Linked DNA regions of Homo sapiens: regions 2, 3, 4, 5, 6 and 7 are each linked to region 1. The links come from fine-mapping of genetic effects on gene expression. A gene starts in region 1. Each other region holds a variant in brackets. All regions are shown on one strand. Distances are between the middles of the regions.

Region 1 (4,305 bases):
TTCAGTGTTAGTCAAGTATAAAATTATCTGACTCTCAATATTCCTGTTAGGTTGCAACCTACTACTATTTTGTGTTTTTTCTTCAAATCCAAACTGAGGAAGTAATTCCACATTTCAATCATTTTGATTTTGTCCTGCCTAAGAAATTAAGTATTGTATCTTCCCACATGTAAATAACCCAGGCTTTATGTATATTTAAACATTTATTTTCATTCCATGCAACTAAACTTCATGATTTTATCCTCTTGTCGCTTCTGTACCATTCCTATTCTTGCAGCCTGCAGCTCAATAAATACACCTGGACAGCTACACCTACACCTATATGATAGGTGCAAGAACATCAATAGAATGGCAATTCACTATAAATCAAGATTTTGTTAGCAATCAGGACAGCCAAAGTACATAACAGGACAGGACTGAAAAAAAGTACATCAAAATCTTTGAAATTTTTGAAAATGCTGGCATAAAACAGCATAAGTATTACTGATAAAGACACTGGACTTCTTTTGCATAATGAATCTTAATGTCTTGCTTTATTTTTCACAGTATTATTGAAAACTAATAATTTTGTGTCTGCTAAGGAAATCCCAGATTTTTAAACAAAGATATCAGGTGCCTCCATATGAATGAAATTGCAAATATTCTACCAATTTTGACCTACAAAACTGGCAATTTCATATGGCTTAACCTATTTCTGAAGTAGGTAAAAGAAGGTAGAGATTAAAATAGAAGTGAAGGTCCAGCTTAAAGACATCAGAGTTTTCTTTTAAGACCCTAAAGTTATGGTTAAGAGTGAAAAGTGGTAACATTTTAATAACTGATGCTGCCAAGAAATAATGTTGGTTTAGTAAAAAGTAAAATAAAAAGGTTTCTAACGCATTTTACATGGCTCAAAAGCAAACATCAAACTTCTATCCAATGTCACGTGTACTCCCTCTTTCCTTTCAAATGATTTGAGAAAGAACCCAGTATCAAACCTTCAACTTTTTCTAAAGTGCAGAGGTTGCTGTTTGCCTCTACTCCGCTCCGAACCCCCTCCCCCCAACCAGTTCTGTGTTGTGTGTAGACATCGCTCCATTACTGTGCTTCCCATTAAATCCGTAATAAGCCAGCTGTCCACTGGCCTCGCTGGGTTTCTTGGGAATCGAGGGGCTCCCATTTCCCCGGCATCACCTACACCTGCAAAAAGACAGGCGTCCAAAGCCTGGGGAGGGCAGCGGACAGGTGCGCCCGCAAACGCGCGCCTGGACCCCGGCACCGCCTTCCCAATCCGGACCTCAGCTGCCTGAGAAACTCGGGGGTTCCGATGTCCAGGCCCTTTAGAGCCCCAAGAGCGCAGTCTCCTAATCCCTCCCTTTGTTTCTGGCCACCGCTGAAATAGAGGAGCGGGGGAGAGGCTTTCCCGACTCCTCCACAAAGCAAATGCGCGAGGAACAGAACCCCGGCTCCCTCACCTTCCGCGGCAGGGTCCCTCCCGCAACTCACCTGCTGGGTGGGAAGCCCCGCCAGGCGGAGCGCAGGACCCCTCAGGCTCGGCCCCTCCATCTCCAACGCGAACTGTCCGGGCCGTCGCCACTCCTTCAAAGGGAAGATTTGAAAAGCCCGCCCCTGGCAGGAGCCGCAGAGGACGCCAACCGCCCGGCCGTACCAAGTCCCAGTCGCAGGGGCCGGGGGCGCAGGAGGAGCCGGGCCGAAGCGCACGCGCAGTGGGCGCGCCTTGCGCTCTGCAGCTCCCGCCGCCGGAAGTTGCCGAGACCCCAGGCTCTAGCGCGGCGGGGCGGGGGAGAGGGCGGCGGTGCCGGACTTAAGTCCCGGACAGGGATGTGGGCGGGCCTGGGACGGGAGTGGGAGGGGCCGCGGGGAAAGCTTCGGCGGCGGAGCGCACCTGTCCCAGCTCAGGTTTCTGGCTGGTGGTTTTCGTGGCACGCCCTTTGCACTGGGAGCTTTCTGCCCGCATCCCACCGAAGGCCTTCCAAAGTGATCGTAGCTGGACAGACTCGAGGCTGCAGTCCCTGTACTCCCAGACAACTCAGGAACCCACAGCGTCACTAAGAGCCCACGGTCTCGTTCCTAAAGAACCAATAACATTACTCTCAAACACAGCGCTCTCTGTTTCCTCTCACCTTTCCCAGCGTTGTCACCAGGGTCACCCAGATATCATGGTTTTATTCATCAGGTTCGTGAGATACTATGTCAGGCATTTCACAAGGTCTTGTCTTTGCCCCCAGTGTTTATAATCCCAGATGTTCCCCGCCAACTACTCTGTCCACTTACTTTGTTTTCTTGCGAAGGATTTCTTTCAGCTCTCTCGCCCTCTCTTTCCCTCTCCAACATCTAAGGTGATAGCAAAATGGGGTACTATTTCTCAAGAGCCTCATTTCTTGCTGCCCTAAAGATTAGCACAAAGACCCATTTTAATTCATGGATTTTGTTAATTATAAAGGGAAACATGGGATTTTTAAAAATCAAAATGAAAGCAGCAAAGATATCACACCCTTGAAAAGTCCTTAAAATTCATTGTCCCTAGTTTATCTTTATTTCCCCCTTGAAAAGGCAAGAGGAAGCCTCTTCTTGAAGAGTCTACCAAATCAACCCTCCAGCCCTCATCGCCTAGAAACCCTTGGGCATTTTTCCTCCATAAATAGGTGCCCATGTTTTTTCATTTGCCTGGGACAGACCCTGTCTGGGTCTGTTGTCCCAATGTTGCACCAATCTTGCACTTATCCCGTAGTGGATATTATGTGGTCATTTTAACTGCAAGACCCTTTTAAAAGCAGTTGGTTTGAGAATGTACTTTAAAAATATAATGGATACCCTTCCTCAAATAGGTAAAATGCCTCTTTAAGACCTTTTGGACTAGGTGATACTAGAAGCTTCCCAGTTGGGAATGATGGTCCCCTTGCATTATGAATGACCCATATCCTTACAACAATAAAATATGTGTTCAAAATTATCAACACGGAGCTCACCTCGTTTTCTACAAACACAGGTCTGAATTTCAGAATCATTATGTGCCCTTTCCTCCAATGCACATCTCTGTCTTATGCTACCACTTTGTGGTATAATTATCTCCTACTCAGTATGAGGCTGCATGAGCCTAGCTGTAGTACCTGACTCAAAAGAAAAACACACCGCGAGCCCATCATCAGACACATAGTACTTACAACACATACAGCTCTCAGTTGCAGATCAAAATACATGTAGAAGCCAGCACTTCATTAAAACAGAGGTGAGTCAACCAGTTTAGAATTGGACACTGATAGAGGAGTATTTGATGAGTTAAAACCAGATATTTAACTGGAGATACATTTATTTATGATACTAGAAGAAAGAGATTAGGCAAGATCATATTTAGTAATTATCTGTAGAATACAGTTGTTACAAGAGACCTTTCTCTTGGGAGAAGAAGTTATGATGTGGTCCTGTTTTTATTATACACCGGGAGAGGTCCCCAGGAATTGCTTAAGTACTTAATTATTATATGATGATTAAAATACCTTGGAGTAGGACTTATGTTTCCTTATTTATCCTCAAGTCCTTACTTGTTACTGCTAATTTCATCAGCCAGTTTTCTCTGGTGTATGTAATGCACATAAAATATACTCATCCATGGAAACTACAAAATTTAAAGAGTTCATATGCAGTGGCTTCATTAGCTTGAGGATTTCTCTATCAATCTATTTATTTTACAGTTCCCAGAAAGTGAGAAGTACTACGTTTTACCATCTCAAATATCTGAGAGAGAACATTTGGGCATCTCTTAACCCATCATCCCTGGGCTCTTACAGAAGGTCGATATCCACCGAACTGCCCAGATGTAGTAGCTTCAGCTAGAGGATGAGTGATGGAATTACTGTCCTACCAATATTACTTCTCACTATAAGGTCAATATTTAATACTAATTAAAAATATACGTATATTAGTTATCCCTAATATAGCAGATAGTATTATAATAAATTAAAAACTACAGAAGCCAATCTAGATAATACCAATAGATGCCAAAGTATATTTTTCTTCTCTTATTTTCTGTATTCTTGTTTTAAACTAAGAGGCTAAAGGAAAACACTGAACTTAAAATCAGCTCTCTGTTACACAACAGATCCATTATTTTGAAAAATGTGGTTTGACACAGAACAGATAACTTGTGATTTTGAATATCCTCCTAGCCTCTCTTATAAAAAAAAAGTCCTCTTAAAAATTCTCTTGGTGCTTTCTTTTACTCATCTGTTCATCTTGTAGATAATCTGTTTAGGTTGAACTGAATAAATTAAAGTTATATTTTGAATTATATATGGAAGAAACAGA
Region 2 (4,305 bases), 170 kb after region 1:
GAGAGCATCCTGAGATGGCATCGGTAGAGCTTGCCTTTAAATCCTGGACCCCAATCCAGGCCAAACACACATTATGATTGGAGTTAAAAAAAATGTTTTCACAACAAGGAAATATTGAAATAAGTCAGCTAACATTTTCATTTGGAAATACAGAGGAAGTTAAGGCGTTTTGGGGGTGCTTAGTTTCCTTGTGTGTATTTTTATAGTTTTTTAGTGGGATGGAGATTTAGTGGAGGCAGGCTGGTACAAGGGAAAGAATCCAGGTCCAGGAACTGAAGATTCTTAGTGAGCTGTGTGACCCAGATGTACTTTCAGGGCTTTCTCAGACTTAGTTTCTTCTGCTAGTAAATGAAAATGTGTGTGTTAGTGTTTCCTAAACCTGCTTGAACATAAGGATCACCTGGGGCACGTGTTAAAAAAATCTGAATGCACTTGGCCTCACCCAAACCTGTCGGAATCCGAATCAGCAGGGTGAGGCCTGAGAATTGATATTTTAACCAGCACCTTGGGTGATTTTTTTGTTCAGACAAGTTTGGGAAACATTGAATTAGATAATCAGTAAGATATGCTTCGGGTCTAAGATTGCTCAGTGGTGCTTCAACACAGCAAACCTTATTTTTTTTTTCTCCCTGTAAATTGGAGAAACAACAATCAAATGAAAAACAAATCAACTGATGGGTGGAGAGGTTTTGGTGGGGCTAATGTGCAACTTTATCACAATGCTTACAAACGTTTGTGGGTATACTTAACCTCAGGTGCTCAAGGACTGTGTGTTGTCCCTGCTCTAAATTGATACTTCCTCTTAGGAAGGGCCTGAACAATTCATTCATCCTAGAATGAAGAGCCTTCTTGCATTTTCTCTCTGGCATATTAATATAATTAGATGTCGGTGGGACTGAGACTAGCAGGGAAAGCACTGAAAGCAGTCAATGACTTTACCTACTTGGAAGACTGCACGGAACCGGCTCCACTTGAAGTAGGAAAGCCTGCCTCAGAAGGACAGTGAAATAGGACATTTCTCCCCTAAGCAAGGAAGTATACTGGAAATCAGAACAAAATTAGTGTTGTCATTGCAGAGTGCAAGCTCTGGGCAGCCTCCTTAAGCTGTTTTAATCTCTTCTCACAAAGTCATCTGCTAACAAGGGACATTAGAATAACCTCATTCAGAAGAGTGAAAACTCATCAATCATACATTTCTTCTTTTAGTATTCAGTATTATTTATTGAGGAAACTTATTTATTCATGTCTTCAACATTACTTCTTGAATCCTCCCATGCATCAGACACTGTTTCAGACCCTCTGGATACAGCAATGAACAAGATGGGTTCCTGAATGCATGGAGCTTGAATTCCAGAAGCAGAGATAGACAATAAAATCTGACAAATAAATAAGACCATTTCAGAGGGTGGAAAGGGGTATTTTGGAAACTAAATAGAGAAACCAACTTAAAGAATGACTGGCTAATGACAGACTAAGAAAGATCTTAGTTTATAGGACTTGCTGAGATTTGGGAAGGACTATTTAGACATGATCTTCTTCACTCACAGATGAGCATGTGTCTCTGCATTGGTGGGTGAAATAATTGAGGTCCAGGGAGGATAAAGGACTGACGAAGGAAATGGCAAGACCAGCACCCAGGTCTAGCGTTTGGAGGTAAATTTTTTTCTGATAAACTTAACCTTCTGAATAATACTCCCAAGAAGAAGGTTTCATTTTTTGCCTCACACATGCCTGAGATATATTTATCTGAGTCCTTTTGTATTCAACACTAGCTCTGGTTTAAGTGATGAAAAAGGTTAGAGATCTGGAATAGTGCAAGGCTCTCCACCCTAAATGCTGCAGAATGTTAGTAGCCCATTTTCAGGAGATTAAAGGATAACACTCGGCCAATAATAGCAAGATACCATAGACTTTTAATATCATCTGACAAAGACTATGGAAAAATGGCTTGTTCCCAATCAAGGGAGATCTATAATGGCTTGATCATCAGAAATGAAAAATCAATCCCAATTCTCATCCATTCTTTTAGCTACCATGCATATTATTTTTACCATGGATATTTACAGCTACATTTCCATCCAGACTTCTGGCAATGCCTAAATTCTTCCATAACAAGAAAACAAACTCATTTCTTTTAAAAACCAGTCTCTTCCCCATAGGCAAAGTGGATAAACAGCCTACTCAAATTTGATGTCATTATCTGAAATATCTAGCAAAAGACTAGTTGTATAAAAAATGATATTTCAGCATTGGTGCAAAAGAAGGCTACCCATTCTGACAGTTCTGTGGTATTTTGTCCTTTTAACTTAATGCTTGGAATGTAGGATTTCACACCTGAGACTCTTCAAAATTTTTACTTCATGGGTATTTGGTTTTTTTTGTAATACCGTAATACTTTAAGACTGTTACTTTTCTTTCTTATTCAGCCTTACTGATGCACTGGTCTGAAC[G/A]TCTTTGTGAGTTTCACTTATATATATATAAAGGAGCCACCACCATCTAATGTATTATAAAAGATACTATAATTAGCGTGTAACTGGCAATCCCACCAGGCAAGCAAGCAATTTTCCAGGCCATGGGAATTTTCTTCTAGACAAATAGGAAAGTTCCAACAGCCATATAAATTAAATAGGGTAAAAAGTTGGTTAACTGGTACTAAAGTAACTAGAACCCTTAATTAAACTAAGTGATTATTTTGGGGAAGTTAAAAGAGGGTACAGGGAATCATTCTTTATATTTAGGAGAAAAAAAAGCCACTGGCAAAAAAATAAATAACAATTGAGATTTAGTTACACAATAAAATTATAGAACATATCCAGATTTGTAATAACACATAAAAATATAATGCTAAAAAGGATAATTTTGATGCTTTACAAGACCTTAGTTGTTAATTAGGTTCATTATTTCATTAAGGCAGGAAGATTTTCACCAAGAAATTTTTATTCACTAAGAAATGAATATTTCCTGAAGCCTTTTGAATCTTGCCAGCACCCTTCATGACCAACATCATTGCACTTACTAAGTTCCTGCTTCTTGTTGAGCAGAGCCAATTAACTGAAAAAGCTAATGATGGAAGGACAACCAATTGGGATCTAGTAAGATCTAGCCCTGTAGCTGGTAACATTGTGCCAGGAATTTAATATGCCTGAGCAGGCTCATCTGTAAGATGGTTATGATAGTACTGTTTATATCATAAGTTGGTTAGGAGGGTTAAATGCCTAGCTCAATGCACCGTAAACAACGAGTGCTCCAAAAAATGTGGCTAGCACACACACACACCAAGCATTTCAAACAAGACCTATAAGCAGATGGACTTCTGACTATAAACTTTCTTATAAATTCCACATAAACTCTCTCTAGCTAAGAGGGAGAGTCAAATACCACATTTAAATGTATGTATGAGAAATGTATTCTCTGTTTCCAGTGATTTCAGAATCAGAGATCATTTTGGATGGTTTATTTTAAAGTCTTCCACAATCTATACCCATAGATACAAATATATGTGTCTGTGGGTGTTTTGGAAAATAGGATTGGGTGGAGGCAGGGAAATGTATGTGGTTGAATTCAGTTAAGCAACTGGCTGTTTTGCGACTAATGATTTGTAAGTAGCAGTTTGGCTGAATTTAACTTTTTTTGTCTTTAAAAAATGTAGTTTTCTGAAATTTATCTAAAAAAGTTGATCTATATCAAGCTTTAGGGTAACTTCGTCATGGTTTCCTTGCTTTCTGGAAATTCTACGCACGTCATAGAGTAAATGTCAAATTTTAAATAGGAAATCAATATTCTTCTCTAAGAGGCTTTGAGAATAAATAGCTATTTTAATTCTTTCTCAGGAAGGGATTTCATAAGGAATTGTAATGACGGAAGCAGACAAAGTTTAAAGCGAGTTTTTAGCAAGTTATTTACATCTCATGTTATGTTTTCCAGGCAGTTAACAAACAGCCAGATCATCAGAGTAAGGTGTAACTCATAAAGCTTTTTCCTTCTAAATTCACACATATACGTACGTGTGTGTGTGAATAGTATATGCAATTTAAAGGTTGTGAGATTGGTAGCAAATGCACTTTTCTGTAAATCTCCTGGCTTCTTTTCCTTCCTTTGACCAGAAACAAGCAGCCCTGATAATTATATTCTCTACCACTAGGGGGTGACAGCTGATAATCTATCCACATACTTTAAAGTAAGACAAACCACAGGCTTGATTATGTAGGTATTAATCTTTCTTTTATTGGTCGCCTGGTGAGATTTGGTTTGATGAGTTTTATTTGCTGAACACGCTCTACATCCAACATCATTCTTCTGTCGTGA
Region 3 (4,305 bases), 42 kb before region 1:
GATGAGCTCACCTGGAGGCTCTGTGAGCCCTGGAAGAGGAGTGGATTTAATTCTAAGTGTAATAGGAAAGTTGATAAAAAGTGGAATGATAGGGTCTGATTTATATTAATTTCCCAGGGACAAAGGCTGTCTTTTTGACCAAACTCTAGCCATGATCCTCTGAGTCCTTTACTCAACTAGGCCTCAACCTTGGCCTCTAAGGACCTGAACAAACACTAGCATTGTTTCTAGCAGCTCTAACCTGCATCCCTAAGATGTCTTCTTAAAGTGCCTGCTTGAGAAAACTCGAGGCTGACAAAATAATTTATTGTTTGTTCCAACCAAGAGCTGAAAACAGGGCCTTTCAGTCTTTCAGTCTCTGTGAGAAGGTAGGAGACTAATTTTGATAAATACCAGCTAGAGCACCCAGGTGGGTTCCACATGGACCAATCCCCCCTTCCCACTATCTGGAACTTTTCACTTAGCTAACTCTGAGCCTCACTCAACCTCTCCCAGTTTCCTCACTTTCCTTTAAAATGACCAGTTGTCTCTACACAAATCAAAGTTGAGTGCAATTCATGTGTGACTCTTCTTATTGTAATAGCACATTACTGATTCAAATCTGTCCTTACCACTTTAGCATCCAACTTTTTTTATTTTTCACAGAATGAATCTCCTTCTTCTGGTTATCTACATCAGAGATTTGAGGGTTTTATCTATAGTGTGAGAACATGGATGACTTCATTACACTCATTCCATTTTTTTCATTATAGTTCCCTTTGTGGTACTTACGTTAAAATAGCACTCTTACCAAAATACCTAGAATTTCTCGTGATGAATTTCATATCCTGGCACTTCGTGGTGATAAAAAGTGAATTTATGTTCAGTAACAACTGTATTTTCTTTTCTTTTTTTTTTTTTTTGAGACGGAGTCTCACTCTGTCACCCAGGCTGGAGTGCAGTGGCACAATCTCGACTCACTGCAAGCTCCGCCTTCCGGGTTCATGCCATTCTCCTCCCTCAGCCTCCCGAGTAGCTGGGACTACAGGCGCCCGCCACCATGCCCAGCTTATTTTTCGTATTTTTAGTAGAGACGGGGTTTCACCGTGTTAGCCAGGAATGGTCTCGATCTCCTGACCTCATGATCCACCTGCCTTGGCCTCCCAAAGTGCTGGGATTACAGGTGTGAGCCACTGCGCCCGGCAACAACTGTATTTTCTATGCTAGCAATCCTAATTTTTTTCATGATTTTCTTGATTTTATTTTTTTTCCAAATCAGTAAAATCTCAAAACATCAACGAGTATATTAAAAGAGAGAGACAAAGAGAGATATAGAAGACAGTGATGTCTGATGGGAATTTATATTAATTATGCTAGGTGTTATGTTTCATAAACCTCCTTTGTTTCTTACTAAATCCTTAATAAAGTCTCTATTACAAAAATACATATGCATACACTTAGTAAGTATGCAATGTATGCATGCACTTCAATAAATAATAGCATACTTCATAGAATACTACTCCCTTGGAGAATGCCTCTTGGCTTTTACTATATAGTCATTACAGACCAAAGATAACTCTCTATACCCAGTGTTTCTGGTCAATGTTTATATAGGAAAATTTATGTTTCTGTCTCCAAATTTCAACATAACATTTTAAACAAAACAATGCATGAGTACATTTTCGAGTTACATTCTGAATTGGTATAATGTCAGACTCACACTTAGGCTTTTCAAAAGTTCACTATATATCAACAAATCTTAACTGCTGCTAGAACTAAGAGAGGGACAAGTGGCCATTCTCTGCTATTATTCATTTATTCTGAACAAGTTTCTACAGTGCCTTTCACAATAAGCTCTTATTTTTCCCTATTGTTCACATAATGAATCCCCAAAAAGTTGAAGTATTAAAGAAAACTGTGGAGAAAGAATCAAAGTAGGCTGGGCATGGTGGCTCACGCCTATAATGCCAGAACTTTGGGAGGGTGAGGCAGGAGAATTGCTTGAACCCGGGAGGCGGAGGCTGCAGTGAGCCAAGATCGTGCCACTGCACTCCAGCCTGAGTGACAGAATGAGACTGTCTCAAAAAAATAACTAGAAGGGGGTTTTAAATTGATAACACATTATAACGTTTCCCACTTAAAATAATGGGAAGTAGACTCACTGTGAGCACTTTAGGGCAGAATATGTTATTTTCAAGAAAAGATTATCGACAATAAGTGGGGTGCCTTCATTTGCCAGGCACTGTTCCAGGTGTTAAAACGACAACAATCAACGAAATAGGGGAGGAGAATGTATAAATATGTAAACATACATTTATATATTTATCTATTTTTCCTCTCTTATACAGGAAGAAAAATAGATAGAAAAATATATAATTGTATCAAGCCCATGAAGCTAAGTAAAGCATGGTGAAGGGATTAAGGTCAGGGGAGAGTGCTATTTCAGATGGCCAAAGGAGAAGAAGGCCTATCTGCAAAAGTAACACTTGAGTGAAGACCTGAAAGGAAGAAAGGAGCCACAAGAAGAACAGAAGGAAGAGTATTTCAGGCAGAGGACAATACATATAAAGGCTAAGGTGAGTACATGCTAGGTGTGTTTGACAAACAAGGAGGTCACTGTGACTGGAGTATAGTGAGGGAGGCAGAGTGATTTGAGATGTCCAAAAGGTAAGTAGGGGGCAGACAGACAGACAATACCACAGTCCTGGTGGGGCACGGTAAGGAACACTGGATTTGGAGTGAGATGTGCAGCAAATGGTAGGTTCCGAGCAGAGTCATGTGCTATGATCTGACTTGTATCAAAATTAAATGAT[T/C]CCTCTGGCTGCTGTGTGGAGAACAGACTACAGAGGCCAGGAGTGAAAAATGAAGACACCAACTAAAAGGCTACTGCAACTGACCAGGCAAGAGCTGTTGCAGGCCTGGAATAGAACGGTGGTGGTGGGGTGGTGAGAAATGGTTGAGATTCCTGATATATTCTCTAAGTTTCAGTGCAAAGACAGGATGTGAAAGCAGGGAGAGAATTAAAGACATCTCCAAGGCTTCTGGTCCAAGCAACTAGAAAAATGGAATTGTTATGAACTGAAATGAGGCTGACTGAGAAACAGATAAAGGAGGTAAGAATTCAGTTTGGGGCAAATAAGTTTAAGACTGTTTTTGATATCTAGGTGCATTATTTGAGATTGTTTTCAGTATCTAGATGCATCCAGGCAACTGGATATATGAGTCTGGAGTTAGAAGAGAAATAGGTATTGGAGATATAAATTTGGGAGTTATCAGTATATACATGAAATTTAATGAAAGTTAGTTAGGTGAAGTCCAAGGACCAAATACTGGGACACAAGCACTCCATTAAATGAAGAGCAATGAACAAAGGAGACAAGCAATGAATAAATGGTTACTGAGGTGGAAGAAAAATCAAGAAAGTGGTATTCTAGACGCCATATAAAAATAGTATTTCAAGGAGAGTGATCAATTGTGTTAATACCAAAAGGTCCAGGAAGAGGAACTCCAATAACTGACAATCAAATGTGGCAACATTAGATCACTGTTGACCTTGACGAGACTAGTTTCTGTAGGATGGGATGGAGGTAACATGAGGTAAGCCAACTGAAATGGTTCAATAGAGAATGGCAGAAGAGGAAGTAGATAGGAATATAAAAAATTATTTTCCATGAAGGATAGTTATGAAATAAAAAATTATTTTCCATGAAGGATAGTTATGAAATTGAAGGTATTTCAGCATGTTTATAAGTATACAGAAATGATGCCGTACTAAAGTTGGTGATGTAGGATAGGTGGGGAGGAAACATGCAGGAGCCTACTGTGAGTAACTGAGAAGTGGGCTCTAGCGCACAAGTAGACAGGCCTTAGATGAGGTGAAGGTAGTTCACAAGAAAGGAAACAGCAAACACTGAGGCAGATGTGGGTAGGCTGGCAGATTTGGTGGATGGAGGATATTTTTCTCTTCCAATTACTTCAGTAATACCAATGACATATGAAACAAAGTTATCAGCTATGAATGAGGGGCAGAGAGAGGATATTGGCAGTTAGAGAGGAGAACATGTGAAATACTTACCTTGAAGAGAGGTAAAGTAGAAGACTATAGAAACAGTAGAATTGCTCGGTCATACTGGGAACCCACTTAAGGTTAGGGATTATGTATCTCAAGTGAGACCAGGAAGTATAACTGTTTTTCTCTTGCTTCTTCATCTATTCCTCATGAGTACGAGTGCAAAGGAACTAAAAGTAGGAGTTAACCAAGGTTGGAGTTTTTCCAAGGCAAGTATGACAAAAGAAGAGAGATGCTAGGAAAGGATAAAACAGTAA
Region 4 (4,305 bases), 39 kb after region 1:
ACTACTTCAAAAATATTTTTATCTGTTTGTTTTTGTTTTAGTAAGGGGGCATTATATTAACAAGATATCTTACGTGGAATATCAGCATCTTTATACAACTATTAGAAGGAGAACACATTTGGTTTCAAACAAGATCAGAAACCCTCCTACTCTTTGTTGACTATCCTGCACTGCTTCCTCTCCTAGCATGAGTCTTCAGTGACCTTTTTTTGAACTCTCAAGCTCCAGAGAACACAGTTTGAAAGCCAATGGGCTTAGTTATTTTAAGATGCTTGTTTGAAAATTTTATGACCAACAAGAAAAGATGGCATAGTGAAGAAAAAACACACAGTTCTCAATGATAGTTGGAATCAGGCTCTACCCCTGAGCTATGGTTGGAATATGTTCCCAAAATTTATATATTGGAAACTTAATCTCCAATGCAGCAGTGTTAGGAGGTAATGGTTACCAGGAAGTGTTTACGTTATGAGGGCTGCATCCTCATGAATGGATTAATACTGTTATTAAAAAGGCTTCACGAGTGGGTTCACTCTCTCTTGCCTTTTGTCTTCTGCCATATGAAGATGTAGCAAGAAAGTCCTCACCAGACCAATTGCTGGTATCTTCCTCTTGGACTTCCCAGTATCCAGAAATATGAGATAGTAAGTTTCTGTTCTTTATGAATTACTCAGTCTCAGATATTCTGCTATAGCAGCACAAAATGGACTAAAACACCCTACATTACTCCGTGACTTTGTAAGTCATTTCTTGTCTGTCAGATAGAACTACCCTGCCTAATAGTGGTGTACTGATCAATGACTATATAACTTAGGAAGTAATTGTTCTGATTATTGCTAGAAAGCAAATTTCCTAAAACTTTTGTGGTTGAAATAGCACCTCAAGATTGTGTGGGTCAGGATTTCCAAAGCGTTTCCTTAGAGGAATTTTCTGTTTGCTTGAAGGTATTCAGCTGGAAAATGGGCTGGTTAGGATTGTCCACGTGAGTTTCACTCACATGTCTGTATTCTTGGCAGTGAAACAGGAAATTTACCCTGACTGCTTCGCGGGCAGGAACTAGAGTGCCGGCACTGGAGCTAGCTAGCTGCTTCAGCAACAGCAGGGGCAAACTTCACTCACTGGAACCTACTGTGCTCAACCCCTCGCGGGAAGGAGCATGTGGGTGCAGGAGCCGGGGCAACTGCTTCTGGGCACCAGCAGGAGCACAACTCCATGCGGGGCCTGCAGCAGCATCTAGTGGGGGGCACTCCCCCTTAAGCCCAAAAAGAAGTGTTACAGTCAGCAATCCTTTACCATTGCTGTCTGCAGACGGCTTATGTGTTAGCAGCTCAGTGTAGGGTCAGTGTGACACCTTTTGCATGCACCCTCTTGGCACCCAAGTTCTTGTCTAGCATTCAGGAGGAATTAGCTCACATAAGTGAGTTGAAGATGGTAAAGGTGGGGGATTTTATTGCTGGTGAAAGTGGCTCTCAGTGGGAAGGGGAGCTGAATAGGTGATGGAGCAGGAAGGTGATCTTCCCCTGGAGTCCAGTTGTCTAGGTTGGACTCCTCTCTGAAGCTACCCCGTCAAGCTGTCCCTCTGAAGTCAAATGCTTCTCTCCAACGTTCAAACATAGTCTCTGATGTCCAACTGTTTTTCCTCTTCTCTCTCTGCTGGCAGAGCCTAGGATTTTTATGGACACACAATGAGGGGTGGGGTGAGCCATGGGTGGTTTTGGAAATGTCAACATTTGAGTGGGAAAACAGGGATGTATGTTCTTACCTTGGGCTGTGGTTCCAGGCTTGAGGGTAGGGCCCTCGCTGGGGACCCATCCTCTTCTGCCCAGAATTTCCGTGCCTCTTGTCCCTATCATTAGGGATGGATGGATGACTGGAAGCCTGGACTCAGTCGAGACTGGCAACAGGAGTGCCTACCCCAGTTCTTTCCAGCATGACAGACTCAGGC[C/T]GAAGTCTCCAAGAATAATTTTCCAGCAAATGGGGCAGAAGCTGTATGGCCCTTTATGCCCCAGCTCTGGAAATCACTTAGCATTCCTTCTGCCATACTCTACTGGCCTAAGATTTCACAAGCTTGACAAGGTTCAAGAGGGAGGAATGGAGACCACACCTCTCAATGGGAAGAATGTCACAGAATTTGCAGCCATGTTTTAAAACTATCAAAGTTATTATAATCTTTAGAATCTGCCTCTTACTGCGTAAGTCAAGAAAAATTGATAAGAGTAATAGAATTCTCTCCACTGTCATAGGAAGAGAATATTGCAAGGGTCCACACTTTCTTGCAAATTTTATATTATGATTAAATGTACCATGCTGAACCAAATGCCAGGGGTCTCTTGAGTGCTATCCTTCAGGCAAGACTTTCACCTGTGCTATAGAATGTTTTTGGCAGAATTATTTGCCATCAGTATCCTTCAATATAAACAAGGCTTTTCTAGTAAGAAAGTGCTAACTCACTCAAGCATTGTTTAAAGCTGCTTTTGGGAATGACTCTTACAGTTCCTGGTATGTAGACTTTGTTATGCAACTAGAATCATTTGAATTTTTGTTCTTGCCTCCAGTTATACCAGAAACAAATAAGTTAAAATTCTAGAATGTTTGTTGTCTGGAGAAATATATTGAACACACTTTTGGACACAGCTTACTCTTTTAAAAAAATGTGCTATTATGTGGAAAGATAATTTAAAAGTGTTTAGGAGGCTAAGTTATATGTTGTCTTTGATACCGATAAAATGGACTTGGCTGGACTTTTCCTAAACAGATGAACGGTATCAAGGAGTCTCGTTCCACCACCGAAAGTCATTTTTTTTTTTACTTCTACTAATTCCACATATCTCCTGGAGAATTCTTCTCCTTGTGTGGAATATATAACTAAGAATTTTAAAAGATACATTAGGGAAAACAATATTGGGAATCAAATCAGAATACTTTGATGGAGAATTGCCATAGAATTTTTCGTAGAACTAAATATGAATTATTTTTCTTGTGTCTTGCACAAGACCACCTTATACCAAGTGGGTCTGCAGTCAATGACGATATAACCACCAAAATGTCTCTTTAGTCACCACAGCAGTCTCTAAAACTACCAGTACAGGTTAAGTCCTTTGTTTAAATTAAGGTAACTGGTCAATTAGAGTTCTTGCTACCCTTGGAGAGGTAACAATGAATAATTATCAGCAAGTGCTGCAGAGCTCAGTATTATTATCTGGGTAACTTGGCATCACTGAAGAGAAGGGAGGACAGTGTTCTGAGAGCTTGTAGCACAGGGAAGATAACCACAGCAAGGAGCACTGCTGGGATGACAGACCAGAGACACCACAACAGGGATCCTTGAACTCCAAGGGGTAGCAACAGGATATTGCAAGCAAGAGACACAGAGAGAAAAGCTGGGATGGAGAGCAAGATGGAAGGGTACACCATGATAAATCCTGCTTGTATTGTTTTGTATAAGGTCCAGCCTATCTCTATATGTGTCCAGTTTAGGAAAATAAAAGAACCTAGTCAACACCTTGGTTATGATTCACTCAGCCTCTCTATTTTTCAGCCTTACTAGGCAAACTATAGACAGGATTGTAAAGATTTGATGAAATGGTATACCTAGCAGTATCTGCCAAAAAAGAAACACTTCATAAGAAGTTCTTCAGTTCCCAGAAAGAAACAGATGGCACATTGCAATGAATTAATTTAAGAGTGTTTTGAAAAGGGACTTTTTATAAAAAAGACATGGATAGAATATAGTGAAAACTCAAGCTCAGTACAGCTGGCCACAATGACTACCTGAGGCCCACAGACGGAAGAAAAGGGGCAGTTGTGAGAACCTGGAGACAGAGAATAGTGTGAAGCGAGCTGCCTGACTGGAAGCCAGACAAAGCCAGTTTACAGCAACCCTGCAGTGGGGAGCTGATATGGTGTGGTTGTATCCCCATCCAGATCTCCTCTTGAGCTGTAGCTCCCATAATTCCCACAGGTAGCTCCCAGTGGGAGGGACCCAGTAGGAGATAATTGAATCACGTGGTAGTTTCTCCCATACTGTTCTTGTAAGTCTCATGAGATCTAATGGTTTTATTAGGGGAAACCCCTTTTGCTTGGTTCTCATTCTCTCTTGCTGCTGCCATGTAAGAAGTGCCTTTAGCCTTCTGCCATGATTGTGAGGCCTCCCCAGCCACGTGGAACTGTGAATCCGTTAAACCTCTTTTTCTTTATAAATTAGGCAGTCGCAGACATGTCTTTATCGGCAGCATGAAAATGGACTAATACAAGAGCTGGGGGAATAAACACTCCAACCTCTTCCTCCTCTCTCCTTTTAGCTCCCAC
Region 5 (4,305 bases), 74 kb before region 1:
AAGGGGATTTGAAATTTTTATTCTGCTCCATTGGAAGCATATTTTAAAAGAATTTTTTAAAACTAACTGAAAATACCTGAAGAATCTAACACACTATGTGTATGAGTATGTATGTATGTATGTTATATCTATAGTATTATATTTTATATACATAAAACACACATTTTAATATTTGAGGTAAGTGAATAATTCCTCTTACTACTATTCTCCCTGTTAATATAAAATTATAAAATTGCTACAACTAATTCAGTTAAATGTTTATTAAGATTAAGTTCTACAAAAATGCATCCATTCATAATTTTGAGTAGATAAACAAAATATAAAAATATTTTTAAGCAAGACACCAAAAAGTATTCATTTTCAACAAAACAATTTATTTTGATATCTTGAACCATCTGACATAATTATGTATATACAAGATCTTTTCAATCTACCTCTCCTTTAGTAGTTACATTAAGAGATTACCATGTCTCAAGAGCAAACTGCTGGAATTTAAAACACAATTTTCCATAAGATCTGGAATGATCTTTTCTAATTATTAAACGTGTCAGCATTAGTATTTTCTCCCATACTCAGATAAAGAAAAATGTTTGTTAAAATTTCTGTAACTTTTTTTGTTGTTAATTGAATGTAAAGGTAGTTTGTTTCTCTAAGCACATTGATTAGTAGGCCTCTCTCTGTAAAGTATTTTTTTAATTTTAAATATTTCTGATCACACTACAGATTTAGAAATAAAATGCTGAAATAATCCAACTGAGCCAGGATTGCTCATTTCTCTCCCCCACTCTGAGGCGCTCTGCAGGAATAAAGTACTGAGGGAGGTACATTAAAATAAGGAGACTCCTTGTGGCTAGTAGCGACTGAATATCCTACGTACCTAATTTACTGCAGTGGCTTAAGCTCTGGGGAAATTCTGGATCACTAAACTAAAAGTAAGGTTATGTCAATGGATTTTTAAAAGAGTATACTTTAAGAAGGATTATATGTAAACATTTTAATAATGTTAATTATACCATGGCTTATCAGAATGTTAGTCTTATAATAATTAGCACCAGCTACTTGGTATGTCTTTTTCTGATTAAACTGATTCCACCACACTGTCTACTTCAATCAGTCTAGTCTAGAGGAGCACTTAAAGAGAAAAAGTTAGAAAACGTCTTCATGAATCAGTTCTTTTAATGTACAGAAGTTTCAATTACATGACTTGGGCTCGCTTACCAAATACCTTTGGTACTTTAAAAAATGTATGTCCATGATATAATACTTTTTAATCCAAAAGTCTGACCCATATTAAAAAATAAAAATTATAAACAAAGCCAATTACACAAGCATGTCAGAAAATCAACACACCCTAATATATTTTCAAATGATGACTTGTCTTTTAAAAACCCAAAGGTAACATCTTTCCCAGAGTTAACTAAGAACATCTATGATCCAGAATATGCAGATTTCATTTAACTATTAATAGCAATGAAGCAGTTGCACACAAACATGTAAACATATGTAAACATTTAAAAATAGTGATGCCTTTGAAATGTAAGGGGAAAATGTCAACTTTACATTATAATTTAAGACTAACAGTGAAGATGGCTACTAGAATATAAATGGTCATCAGTTAAAGTTTAATTACTATTCAATAATTCACTCTTTAACAAGAAAATGAGTTTTGATAAATTCAGACCACAGGGACAGATATTTTTCTTGCAGAGCAGTTCTTGCTCATGGTGCAATGCAGTACTCTGTCCATGTAGTATAGTTGTGCCTCATTCGTGGTAACACAGGTGATTACATTCAAATGGCATTTAACATAAATTGCACCAAACTGCCCTATAATTTCATTTTGGACTGAATTAATTAACTTCTCAGTAGGGGGCTGAGGTGCTGAACATAAGCCTAAAGAAATACTTGACTGCTTAACCTACCTTACGTGAGGTATCTCTAATTCAAGACAGCTTCCATTTTTAATAAATAGTAGCAGGTAAAATGCATTTAGTAAGATCCCAAAGGGTAAAGATAAGGCATTTATAATAAATGGATTTAGTTTTCCACATATATTCACATCCATTTAAAAGAAGTCAGGGGGCACTGCAGACAGTTAAGGAGGATTTAACAAAACTCAGCAAGAGTTGGCACGCCTGATATTTTTGAAAGACTATTTACCTTAGGAGGTGTGCATTTAGAATTTTAAAAATGCCTTCTTTGCCCTTGCAAGATATTAAAATACAAAAGTTACCACTTAGTAGCAATTAAAAATAATACTATCTTAATGCTGACTACGTAATTTATATCCCAGAGCTTGAAATGTAAAGGTAATTGTCTAAGACATTATCTTTAGATCATCAGAATTATCATATCATAAAATATCTATTCTGTTTCCCCAATTATATTATCAAGAGCTGACAGCTAACTCTTTGTTTCAAGTTTA[T/C]AGTCTTCATATATCAAGAAACAAATTAAAAGGACAAACAAGGAATGTGAAAGCTCATAAAAAGCTGAAGCAGCTTTCATATTACATGGCATATTTATTTGTCATAAACTTCTGGTTTAAGAAATGAGAAAACAAACAATTCTTTTGAAACACTCTTTGACACAGTGCTTAACTATTTTTAGATTTTTTTTTTAAACTGTAAAGGAAGGGAGGAAGGAGAGACAGAAGGAAAGTGGGAAAAGGGGATGAGACAGAGAGAGAGGACAGGGGGCCAGAGAAAGAAACAAAGACAAAAAGGAAGGAAGGAGGGAAGGAGGGAAGGAGAGACGGACAGAGGGAATGAAGGAAGGAAGGAAGGAAGGAAGGAAGGAAGGAAGGAAGGAAGGAAGGAAGGAAGGAAGGAAGGAAACCAACTCTGTATTATAACTACACTCCTTAGGTAAGGGGTAAATTAGCATTTCAGGAGCTGAAGACACCAGACCCATTTCAAAGACTTGTAACATACAGTAAGCTGGGCCCCCCAGAAAGAGACCGAATAATTTGGTGGGGAGGGGGTGGTGGTCCTTGCTCAGGCTTTTAAATGGTTCTAGGTAAAAAGGGCTTCAGTCCTGTTTCAAAGTTCTACTCTGAGGGCACAACTGCTAGGTAATTTCTGTATGAATACTTTCTTTTTCTTATACACCTTAAGTCCTTCCTGCTGTTATCTGCATGAGGAAAAATGACAAGAATATAATCTGGAAGTTTTAATACTGATTTGTAATAAAGGAAGGCATCAACTAGGAAAAAAAAAAGAATGCTTAGATGCCAGCTTCAAAACAATTTTCCCTGCAGCATCTTCTAGCTCAATAATTTAGTGGCAATGACAGTCACAAATGCTGTCAAAAACAGCAATGAAGTTTTAAAAAATAACCCAAAAATTCAAACAATAATATCCTTTAGATTTTTAATGTCATTTATTGAAATGGCAATCATAACAGAAACTTATGAGAGCCTTCTAGTTAGAAAAAATAAGTTTACTTTTTAAGGTTTCCATACATGTGATGATCTCTACATGCTATCAAGCAGGCATATAGTACTTTCTTCTCACCAAAAACTCTGTCTGTCCTGATGTTACCAGTCACAAGAAACCTTTTGTTATCATTACTCCCTCAAGATTCAATTCTTACTAGGAGTCCTGGGCAAACACAAAAGTGTCCTGGCAGTTACATCATTCTCTATAAATGGAAAAGACCCCGCTATCTGAAAATAATGAAAGGCTCCATTTAAATTAATGTGGTTTTTTGGTCAAGTGTTCATTTTGTTTTGTAATAATGTAGTTCTGATCCAAATAGAGTTCTTGCTAGCTTTAAAAAGATCTCAAGAGATTATACACAGGGCAGCAATTTAATTCTTAAATTTTTATTTCTTGCAATGACATTTAGGGTTCAGTGTGATTTGAGATTTTTAGTGCTGTTGCTGACACCTTATGGAAACTGTTTTATTTGGAAATTCTAATTAGATTTTTAAAACTGTTCTGCTCTTGTTTACAAAAAGCATTATTATAAAAAATGGATTTTTTGTTCCTTTAAGGTATTTTTCTGCTATTTATTCCTCACTTGACTTTATAATCCTGTTTGGGTCACTATGATTAGTTGCTATGGAAATTACCTCCTATGGAAATGATTCCAATGTCACTGTTGTAAGAATATGACATTTAATGAAAAATACCACTAGCAGACATCAACTCTTACTAGGAAAAGGAAATCTAATTAAAATTTTAAAAAAGAATTCTGAAAATTATTTACCATGGCCAACTTTTCTGATATTTTTGAATCTCTCATCTTCTTTTTAAATAAGTATTAAATGAATTTTAAGGTGTTGATCAGCTACTCACTTCCCTA
Region 6 (4,305 bases), 120 kb before region 1:
TTGCAATGACTACATTAGACTATGTCACCATGGAAAAGACATGGCCTTCCCAGCCAGATGCATCCTTGCCCACTACTTCCATAATGCCACACACAGTTCAGACTGCAGTAGATTTTTGAGGAAGGATGGCCTTGTTAGCTTAGTGTCATGCTTGTCTATGATGCTCCAACCTTGGGCTCCTGAGGTTATAATCCATCCTCATACATTCAGCCAGTGTCCCAAAGTGAACCCACCATGCTAGGTAGATGAATTAATAGGCGCATCTTCAAACTCCAATTCCCCTAAGTTAATGGTGAATTCCTTCTCACTTGACCTTCCTTTCTTGTAAGTAGGACTCACTCAGGACCACCTCAGTTCATCAGGCCTTCAAAAATGGGAGGGTTCCCACACTAGATCTATTTGATTTACCCACTGGTTGTTCAGAAACTAGTCCTATATGCCCAGGGGTATAGAGAGAGGTAACATTGTTAAGGCACCTGTGGGTCTTCAGTGGTGTCCCATGAAGCTGGAGCCACTTTGCTTGCATTTGCATGGAGGTTTCTACTGTCATATATTCAAGCTCAGATATGTCAGTGACTGAGACTTCACTTCCAGCATCCCCCAGCAAATGTGGTCCTTCACCAACGTAGAAAACCCAGCTAGCTCCCTTACCTCCGGTTGGACAACTGTGAGGTGTAACTAGCGCTCCAAAGTTTCTCTGTGGGAATGGCGGTGAAGCAACTTCATCTCCTTGTTCAGTTTCTTTCCTTTCCTTGTTCTGCTTTCTTCACCTGCTCACTGAACTCCCTTGGAAGCACTTCCCTAATCAATCGCTTCTCATGATCCTCATCTCGGGGTCTGCTCTTGGGGAACTCAACTCAAGAAACCATCTAATGAGGTCAAGGCAGTGAATGCCTTCTATTGTATGGATGTATGTATGTATGTATTTGAGATGGAGTCTCGCTCTGTTGTCCAGGCTGGAGTGCAGTGATGCTATCTCAGCTCACTGCAACCTCCGCCTCCTGGGTTCAAGTGATTCTCCTGCCTCAGCCTCCCGAGTTGCTGGGATTACAGGCATGTGCCACCATGCCCAGATAATTTTTGTATTTTTAGTAGAGATGGGGTTTCACCATGTTGGCCAGGCTGGTCTTGAACTCCTAACCTCAAGTGATCCACCTGCCTCAGCCTCCCAAAGTGCTGGGATTACAGGCATGAGCCACCACGCCCGGCCGGCAGTGAATGCCATCTAGTCTTACATTTTCATAGCCAAGAGGGTCCCTCAGTGTGCTCCAGAAGGATTTGTTTCCTCCAAGTGGAATGGCAAACACCGTTGAAATGGTAGCTACTCATACAAATAAATGAAATTCTCTATTTCTGCCCAAGAAAACTCTTTTCTATTGGTTGCTCCAATATTTTTACTTATTATTTTTCTTGTGATTATCCCTAAGAGGCTTGAAAATGGCCAAGGTCCACAGTCACCAAATAATTCACTTGACTGATCATCATATTCAGGAAACTTGCTTGAGTATTTACTCTGAAGTCAAAGACTTTCTGATGCCTCCTTTCCCAACCTCTCCTTTTTTTTTTCTCCTAGTGCCTTTATTCAGGTAAAACTGACACCCATATGTCCCCTGTCTTGCCCAGTCAAGGCCTATGCATGGAAATGATTAAACCAGTTAGTGGCGAAAGGCATGGTTTCTACTTTTCTTCACTTGGTAAGAGACGGTGGGGGAAGGTCAGGATAAGTAATGAAAAGCACTAGATGGTGCTCAAGACATTTCAGAGATCAGACAATCAGTATGAGGAGAATTCTGGAACACAGGGGCCTTTGAAGATACCCTCTGGCATTTGTCCCCAGTACACAGTTGCTGGTTGTAGGCTATTCCGTATTCACAGTTTGTAGATTAATCCTCGTGAGAGAGGGGTGTGCTGCCCCTTGTCCCCATCTCTGTACCTCACCTGGTGCTGGTGAGAGCTCAAGAATACAGGTTACTTGGGTTTCAGGTCAGCAACACAGGTGGCTACGGGAAGTCTACATGGTGTGGT[G/C]GGCGAGGCCTCAAGTTCAGCAGAAGACAAGCTTGATTCAAATCCTGGCTCTACACTTGTGAGCTATGTGGCTATAAGAAAATCACTGAACCTCTCTGTGGCTCCATTTCCCTGGATAGAAAATGAAGATAATGATAGTGACCTCCAAGAGTTGTTCTGAAGCATAGAAATGAGATCAAACATGTGCAATGGTTGGCACCAAGTAAATACCTGAGAAATAGCAATTCCTATCCTCCCATACAGCAAGGTTTAGTAAATGACACTAGGTTTATCTGAGTCATCATTCAGCTTTATAAAGACTGAACATGCCTCCCTCGCCCCACAATTAATCCCCCAAATTAACATTTTGGAACTTTGAAATCAGAAGGTAATTTTCATGTCACCTTGTCTAACCCACCCATTTTGCAGGTGATAAAATTGAGGCCTAGAGGATTCAGGGCTTTGTTCAAAGCCTGCTGTTTCTCCTCTATTACCCCTTGCCCTACACCTTGTTAATTATCACCTTTTTGAAGTCCATGTTTACAAATCCTGGTGAATGTTTAGCTATTTGCGCTTGCAGTATTATTTTGTGAGGTGTGGCCATGAGGGGTTATTTCAGGTCTTTCGCTATGGTCCCCCAAAAGGAAAATGCTGTCAATTCTTCAGAGCCCCCTAAGGGTGTCAAGTCAGTACTCGGCCACAGGCCATTGGTTCTAGATACTTCCTTCCTGAGAGAAGATTGTTCTCTCTGGACGCATTTGTCCTCTGGCCTAAATGCATTCTGCCATGGTCAAGGTGGTGAGGCTGGAGGAGAGAGTTTTACATAAGCTGGGACAGTCCAATCAGCTTCCTGGCCTTTAGTGGCTGCTGACTTTGCCAGACACTTGTGCTCTGGGGAGACAGCTCTCCCTCTGTCTAACCCCAGGCTCTGTTGCAAATTTAGAGATCCAGAGTTGGGTCTTCAAGGCCAGAGGCCTCCAGCAGCCTAGAGCTCTGCTTCCTCACCAGCCAGCTAGCCCATTTCTGCACCATAGCCTTTCCAGAGTGTGACAGGCCACCAGTGGTCTTGGGGACAAAAATTATGAAAACAGACCAACCAGAACATTGTCAGGAGCGTCCTGCAGCTTCCCAAAGAGTTGTTCTCGCAGTGTCAAATGCATTAAGTCCTACCAGGGAAAACAGGAGAGATGTGACTGAAATACTCTTGGCGCCTCCTCAACCCCAGAGTGCTTCACTGCACAGCCCCCACTTCAATGCCACCCTCAGCCCCCAGCTTCTAGGATACCCCTGGGAGAAGATATCAAAGTCTGAGTGATGGCAGGTGGGTGGATAGACACATCAGAATCTGGTTGGGTGTGGGGAACACAAGACAGGTTTGAAAAGTTCCCCAGCTTATTCTGACGAATTCTCCCTCTGTCTCGGTTTGCCAGACTTAGCAAATAAAAACACAGGACACTGGCCGGGTGCGGTGGGTCACACCTGTAATCCCAGCACTTTGGAAGGCTGACGCGGGCGGATTACCTGAGGTCAGGAGTTCCAGACCAGCCTGGTCAACATGGTGAAACCCCATCTCTACTAAAAATACAAAAATTAGCCAGGCATGGTGGCACACGCCTGTAATCCCAGCTACTTGGGAGGCTGAGGCAGGAGAATTGCTTGAGCCTAGCAGGCGGAGGTTGCAGTGAGCAGAGATCGTGCCACTGCACTCCAGCCTGGCCGACAGAGCAAGACTCTGTCTCAAAGAAAAACAAAAACAAACAAACAAAAGACAGGACACCTAGTTAATCTGAATTTAGATAAACAATGAATAGTTTTTAATTTAAATGTGTCCTATGTGATATTGGGAGAATACTTATACTAAAAAAAAACTGTTTATCTGAAACTCAGTTTTAACAGGGCATCATTGTATTTTATCTGGCAACTCTCCCACCTTCCCCACCCTCAAACAGGAAAGTGACATTTTAAAATACCATTCTAAAAAAAATACACTAACTGTCAAAAAGTAGAGAAGTATAAAAAATAAAAATAAAAACCAGGCATAATTTTACCATCCAGAGTTGTTAAGCACTGCTATCATTTTGGTCTATTCCTTGTCAGTCTGTGTGTGTCTGTCAGAGGTTTATTGTCAACCATGTATTTATTTATAAAATTTGGATTACACCAAACATAGTTTTATGTTATTCTTTTCCTCTATAAAATTATATATATAAAGACCAGTCACGGTGGCTCACACCTGTAATCCCAGCACTTTAGGAGGCCGAGGCGGGCGGATCACGAGGTCAGGAGATCGAGACTATCCTG
Region 7 (4,305 bases), 60 kb before region 1:
TGATTAATACAAGTAAAGTTTCTTAGAGTGTCAGAAAGTTCATGCAAGCTGTTTTTTCACTGTGGAAAAATATCAACAATAGTTCTCACGTCTTCAATTCTCAAAAAAGGAAGTGATTAGAAAACACTAAGGTGAATTTTAGGACTGTTATTTATGGGCTTATGTGTTTATATAAGTGACTCCTCTTAGGGTATGAAAACAAGGAACTTGGTAATTCCCTGCCTCCCCCCCATATTTCTGCCACCTAAAATATTGCCTAGTACTCAGTAAATGGCTAAAAAATATTTAAAGAATAAACAAATGAAACAGGAAAAGAACAACTCAAATAATGATTAAAAAGTTTTGTATTGATAGACCCAGATCCTAGAAATAATCTCCAATCCAATTCTTTATGAGGAAACATGTTCTGTGAGAATTATTCTATTAAGCCCAGCGTTTCCTGTATTGTTTTTGCTAATCTCAAAACTTCAATTACCTAGGAGGTTTTATAGTCAACTTTTCTTGATTTGTAAATAGATTTGAGATTATTCACTGTGTAATTTTAATCTGTAGCTGGATTTGCTTTTCGTCAGTCTGCAATTTTTCACTCCATGAGATGGTGTTGTTACCTAGAGAATGCCAAGTGAAGTCAATAAAAACATAAACTGGGAAGTCAATTTTGTAATAAAATATAAACTCTAAAGTCACAGGAAAGTTTCATTTAGGTTTTTAAAAATTATTATTTTGAATTAAAACTGTACTTCCTCCTCTTCATTTCCATATACGTGGAAAATTACTAGATCAGGACTAGATTTATAAATTATATATGTTACTTTTGACTATACGACCATAAAAAATGCACCCAGATTATGGTCTCTAAATACTCTTTACTAAAAACATCAGAGCTTTTCAAATAAATGGCTGACTCTCAGCCTGGGCCAGGAAATGTATAAGATGATTCTGGAACATCTTGTCCTATCAGAAATCTAAGATTCCTAGGGTTATGTCAAAAGGATTCAAGAGTCAACTCGAAGGGGCTTCTACTAGTCAAACATTGGACATTGATTAGAACATTGACTAGAATAGCAATGGCAATGGACAGACACATGACATGTATTTAAATCCAAAAATTCAAAACGATATTTAAAAATGAACTCATTGGTCACCTGTGAAAGATGGTAGGAAACCATCTCATTGTTTTGGTAACTGACATATAAATGGGAAAAAACAAACAAGCAAACAAACAAACAAAAAAACAAAAAAAACCCCAAGCACTTTTCCTGTCTTCCCTATAAGAATTGTACTTCAGGGTAACCAAATAGCTGATGAAGTAGAGGCATTCCAGCTATAACGAATGTAAAAATACTACCAGTTTGTAATCCTTAATGAAATAAAGGATCTAAAACAATGCTCATCAGTGGTTGTTAAGATGAGTGGAAGACCTAGATATATGATATGCTTCTTGATGAAAGTATATGACCCTTCCTAAAATGTATTCTTACTAACCAACCAACAAATCTGAATATGATCCAAAAATATAAGAAAAAAGGCAGGCTGGGTGCGGTGGCTCATGCCAGTAATCCCAGCACTTTGGGAGGAAGAGGCAGGTGGATCACTTGAGGTCGGGAGTTCGAGACCAGCCTAACCAACGCGGAGAAACCCATCTCTACTAAAAATACAAAATTAGCTGGGCGTGGTGGCGCATGCCTGTAATCCCAGCTACCCGGGAGGCTGAGGCAGGAGAATCGCTTAAACTTGGGAGGCAGAGGTTGCAATAAGCCGAGATTGCTCCACTGCTCTCCAGCCTGGGCAACACGAGCGAAACTCCATCTCAAAAAAAAAGAAGAAGAAAAGAAAAATGGCAACCCAGGTATGCAACTAGAAAAATCCAGACTATGGAAAAACCCTGCAGGATAAAAGATCAATTTCTTCAGCAAATAAATTGTCTATGGTGTGTGTGTGTGTGTGTTTGAAGTGGGGAGTTAGAGGTGTGAGTGAGCATAAGCCAACATATTCATTATTATTATTATTATTGTTAAACTTTTAAGTTCAGGGGTACAAGTGCAGGTTTGTTACATAGGTAAACTTGTGTCATGGGGGTCTACTGTAAAGATTA[C/T]TTAATCACCCAGGTATTAAGCCTAGTAACTATTAGTTATTTTTCCTGATCTCCCTCTTCCCACCCTCCACACTCTCCGATAGGCCTCAGAGTGTGTTGTTACCCTCTATATGTCCATGTGTTCTCATCATTTAGCTCTCACTTATAAGTGAGAAAATGTGGTATTTGGTTTTCTGTTCCTGTGTTAGTTTGCTAAGGATAATGTCCTCCAGCTCCATCTATGTCCTTGCAAAGGACATGATCTAGTTCATTTTTATGGCTGCAGAGCATTCCATGGTGTATGTGTACCACATTTTCTTGATCCAGCCCACCACTGATGGGCATTTAGGTTGATTCCATGTCTTTGCTACTGTGAATGGTGCTGCAATGAAAATATGTGTGCATGTGTCTTTATAATAGAATGATTTATATTCTTTTGGGTATATACCCAGTAATGGGATTGCTGGGTCGAATGGTATCTGTCTTTAGGTCTTTGAGGAATCAACACACTGTCTTTCACAATGGCTGAACTAATTTACACCCCCACCAACAATGTATGAGCATTCCTTTTTCTAAAGAGACTTAAAAGACCTAATCAATCAACCATAATATGTGGCCCTTATTTGGATCCTAACTCAAAAACTTACAAAAATTGAGACTAGGGATCTTAAAGACTGCCTGGATTTTTAACGATATATTAACTACATATAATTATATCTACATATGACAACTTATATATAAAACCATAAATTTTCTTAAGTGTGACAATTGGAATATTTACAAGTAAAATGATATGGTCTCTAGGATTTGCTTCAAAATATATCTAATGTGGGGGCAATGTGTGAGAGTACACATGGGTTCATTTATACTATTCTATGTATAAATTACCTTGAATTTTTTTCCAAAGAAAATAATTAAAAAATAAAATACAAACACAAAAACCAAAGTCAGTCTATTATTAATGCCTCTTTCTTGGCTGTAATGCAGATATCTCACATCTTCCTTACAAACATGCTGTAAAGATAAATGAGTTATTTGAAAAGTGCTTCGTCTGAAGTCCTGTTAATCAGCAATGAAGACAAAATGTTGGTGCTAAAAACAAGCTTTAGACTTTATATATACTCTAATGACAAAAAAGGATATCTTCATGTATACGACAAGGAATGTTTGAAATATGTAATGCATAGCTGTAAGTTAAACCAACCATGAGGTATGATTAGTATCAGTTTAATATAATTATTTTAAATTTATATTAATTAAATCAGATGTAAACTCCTACAGGAAAATGTTTGAAAAATTATTTTTGCTATATTTACTTTTAAAAATCTGAATAGTTGATATGATTAGATATTAAGGAAACTAATATAATTGGATTAAAATCCCATGTGCTTCATAATAATTTTGCTTTCTAGGTTCTATGATAAATATAATAGTTAAAAGTATTTTCAAAACAATTTATCCAAAGTCTACTACACTAAATAGTGTTATTGACTTGTTTAGTACAGATTTTATTAAAATGAATGATGTATATAATATTTAAAACAAGAAAAGGCTTGATCTCAAAGACTCACACTTTTTTTTAACCGTCACACCCCTCACCATATTGACAATGGATAAAGCTTTAGTTAACAAAATGCTTTCTATAATGTGTAGGAAATTCAGTTAAGTACCTGTTATTGAGAATGTCTTGCTCAAGAACATTCTTGTGAAGTTTTCTGAATTTGAAGCAATCACTTTGAAGTAAATCACCCTTTCAAATTTGGATTGACAATGGGAGGGGAATAGCTCTTAGGCTTTTCTTCCCTTAATGTGACTATTTCCACAGATGGCTCCCTATGAAAATTAATGAACTAACTTAGCCTTACAAGAAATGCCATTTAGAAGGACAAGAATTATAGCTTGAGAACAGATCCTGTGATCTAAATAACAGAACTATTATTTATATACCTTAGCAATTGTGAAATTTATGTTTTCAAATAATTTTTAAGTAGCATTAAGGAAAATTATTTTCATGAGAAAAGAAGAAAGACAATCAAAAGACAAAAAACTCTGATTTGTATTTAATGTTTAACATTATTAAGCTTAAAGATCTTAGAGACCATTAGAAATATACTAAAAACTAAAAGAGAAACACTATTCTTTTTTCTTGAGATGGAGTCTCACTCTGTCACCCAGGCTGGAGTGCAGTGGCACAATCTCGGCTCACTGCAACCTCCACCTCCCAAGTTCAA

Direction of the effects. Alleles are on the strand shown, and positions count from the first base shown. SD is a standard deviation of normalised expression in the study named. Not every link is listed here.
For the expression in sun-exposed skin of the gene that starts at base 1,779 in region 1, G is the high allele of the variant in region 2 and A is the other (moderate effect, 0.45 SD a copy in GTEx).
As copies of T replace C in region 7, the expression in whole blood of the gene that starts at base 1,779 in region 1 goes down (moderate effect, 0.41 SD a copy in GTEx).

What was found. PIP is the estimated chance that this variant, and not a neighbour inherited with it, causes the effect.
Region 2: its variant is fine-mapped to the expression of RTKN2 in sun-exposed skin (GTEx, PIP 0.97). The same link has a PIP of 0.9 or more in unexposed skin.
Region 3: its variant is fine-mapped to the expression of RTKN2 in whole blood (INTERVAL, PIP 0.98).
Region 4: its variant is fine-mapped to the expression of RTKN2 in lung (TOPMed, PIP above 0.99).
Region 5: its variant is fine-mapped to the expression of RTKN2 in whole blood (INTERVAL, PIP above 0.99).
Region 6: its variant is fine-mapped to the expression of RTKN2 in whole blood (INTERVAL, PIP above 0.99).
Region 7: its variant is fine-mapped to the expression of RTKN2 in whole blood (TOPMed, PIP above 0.99).

Annotation. Positions count from the first base shown.
Region 1 is chr10:62,267,066-62,271,370 of GRCh38, forward strand. It overlaps RTKN2 (rhotekin 2), which reads right to left and starts at 1,779. Exons shown (of 12, transcript NM_145307.4): 1 at 1,486-1,779. The coding sequence starts at 1,545. All of the region lies in intron 1 of LINC02621 (long intergenic non-protein coding RNA 2621), which reads left to right. RefSeq lists a silencer at 1,531-1,860.
Region 2 is chr10:62,433,664-62,437,968 of GRCh38, forward strand. It overlaps a transcript of ZNF365 not described here. Among named protein-coding and RNA genes, the nearest start is that of ZNF365, 61 kb to the left of the region's middle. The variant G/A (reference allele first, on the strand shown) is at 2,451.
Region 3 is chr10:62,224,898-62,229,202 of GRCh38, forward strand. The region is part of intron 6 of RTKN2 (rhotekin 2); the gene reads right to left. Among named protein-coding and RNA genes, the nearest start is that of LINC02621, 32 kb to the right of the region's middle. The variant T/C (reference allele first, on the strand shown) is at 2,793.
Region 4 is chr10:62,305,807-62,310,111 of GRCh38, forward strand. No RefSeq gene overlaps it. Among named protein-coding and RNA genes, the nearest start is that of RTKN2, 39 kb to the left of the region's middle. The variant C/T (reference allele first, on the strand shown) is at 1,943.
Region 5 is chr10:62,192,841-62,197,145 of GRCh38, forward strand. RTKN2 (rhotekin 2) reads right to left here. Exons shown (of 12, transcript NM_145307.4): 12 at 246-4,305. Among named protein-coding and RNA genes, the nearest start is that of LINC02621, 64 kb to the right of the region's middle. The variant T/C (reference allele first, on the strand shown) is at 2,426.
Region 6 is chr10:62,145,897-62,150,201 of GRCh38, forward strand. No RefSeq gene overlaps it. Among named protein-coding and RNA genes, the nearest start is that of LINC02621, 110 kb to the right of the region's middle. The variant G/C (reference allele first, on the strand shown) is at 2,026.
Region 7 is chr10:62,207,457-62,211,761 of GRCh38, forward strand. The region is part of intron 9 of RTKN2 (rhotekin 2); the gene reads right to left. Among named protein-coding and RNA genes, the nearest start is that of LINC02621, 50 kb to the right of the region's middle. The variant C/T (reference allele first, on the strand shown) is at 2,096.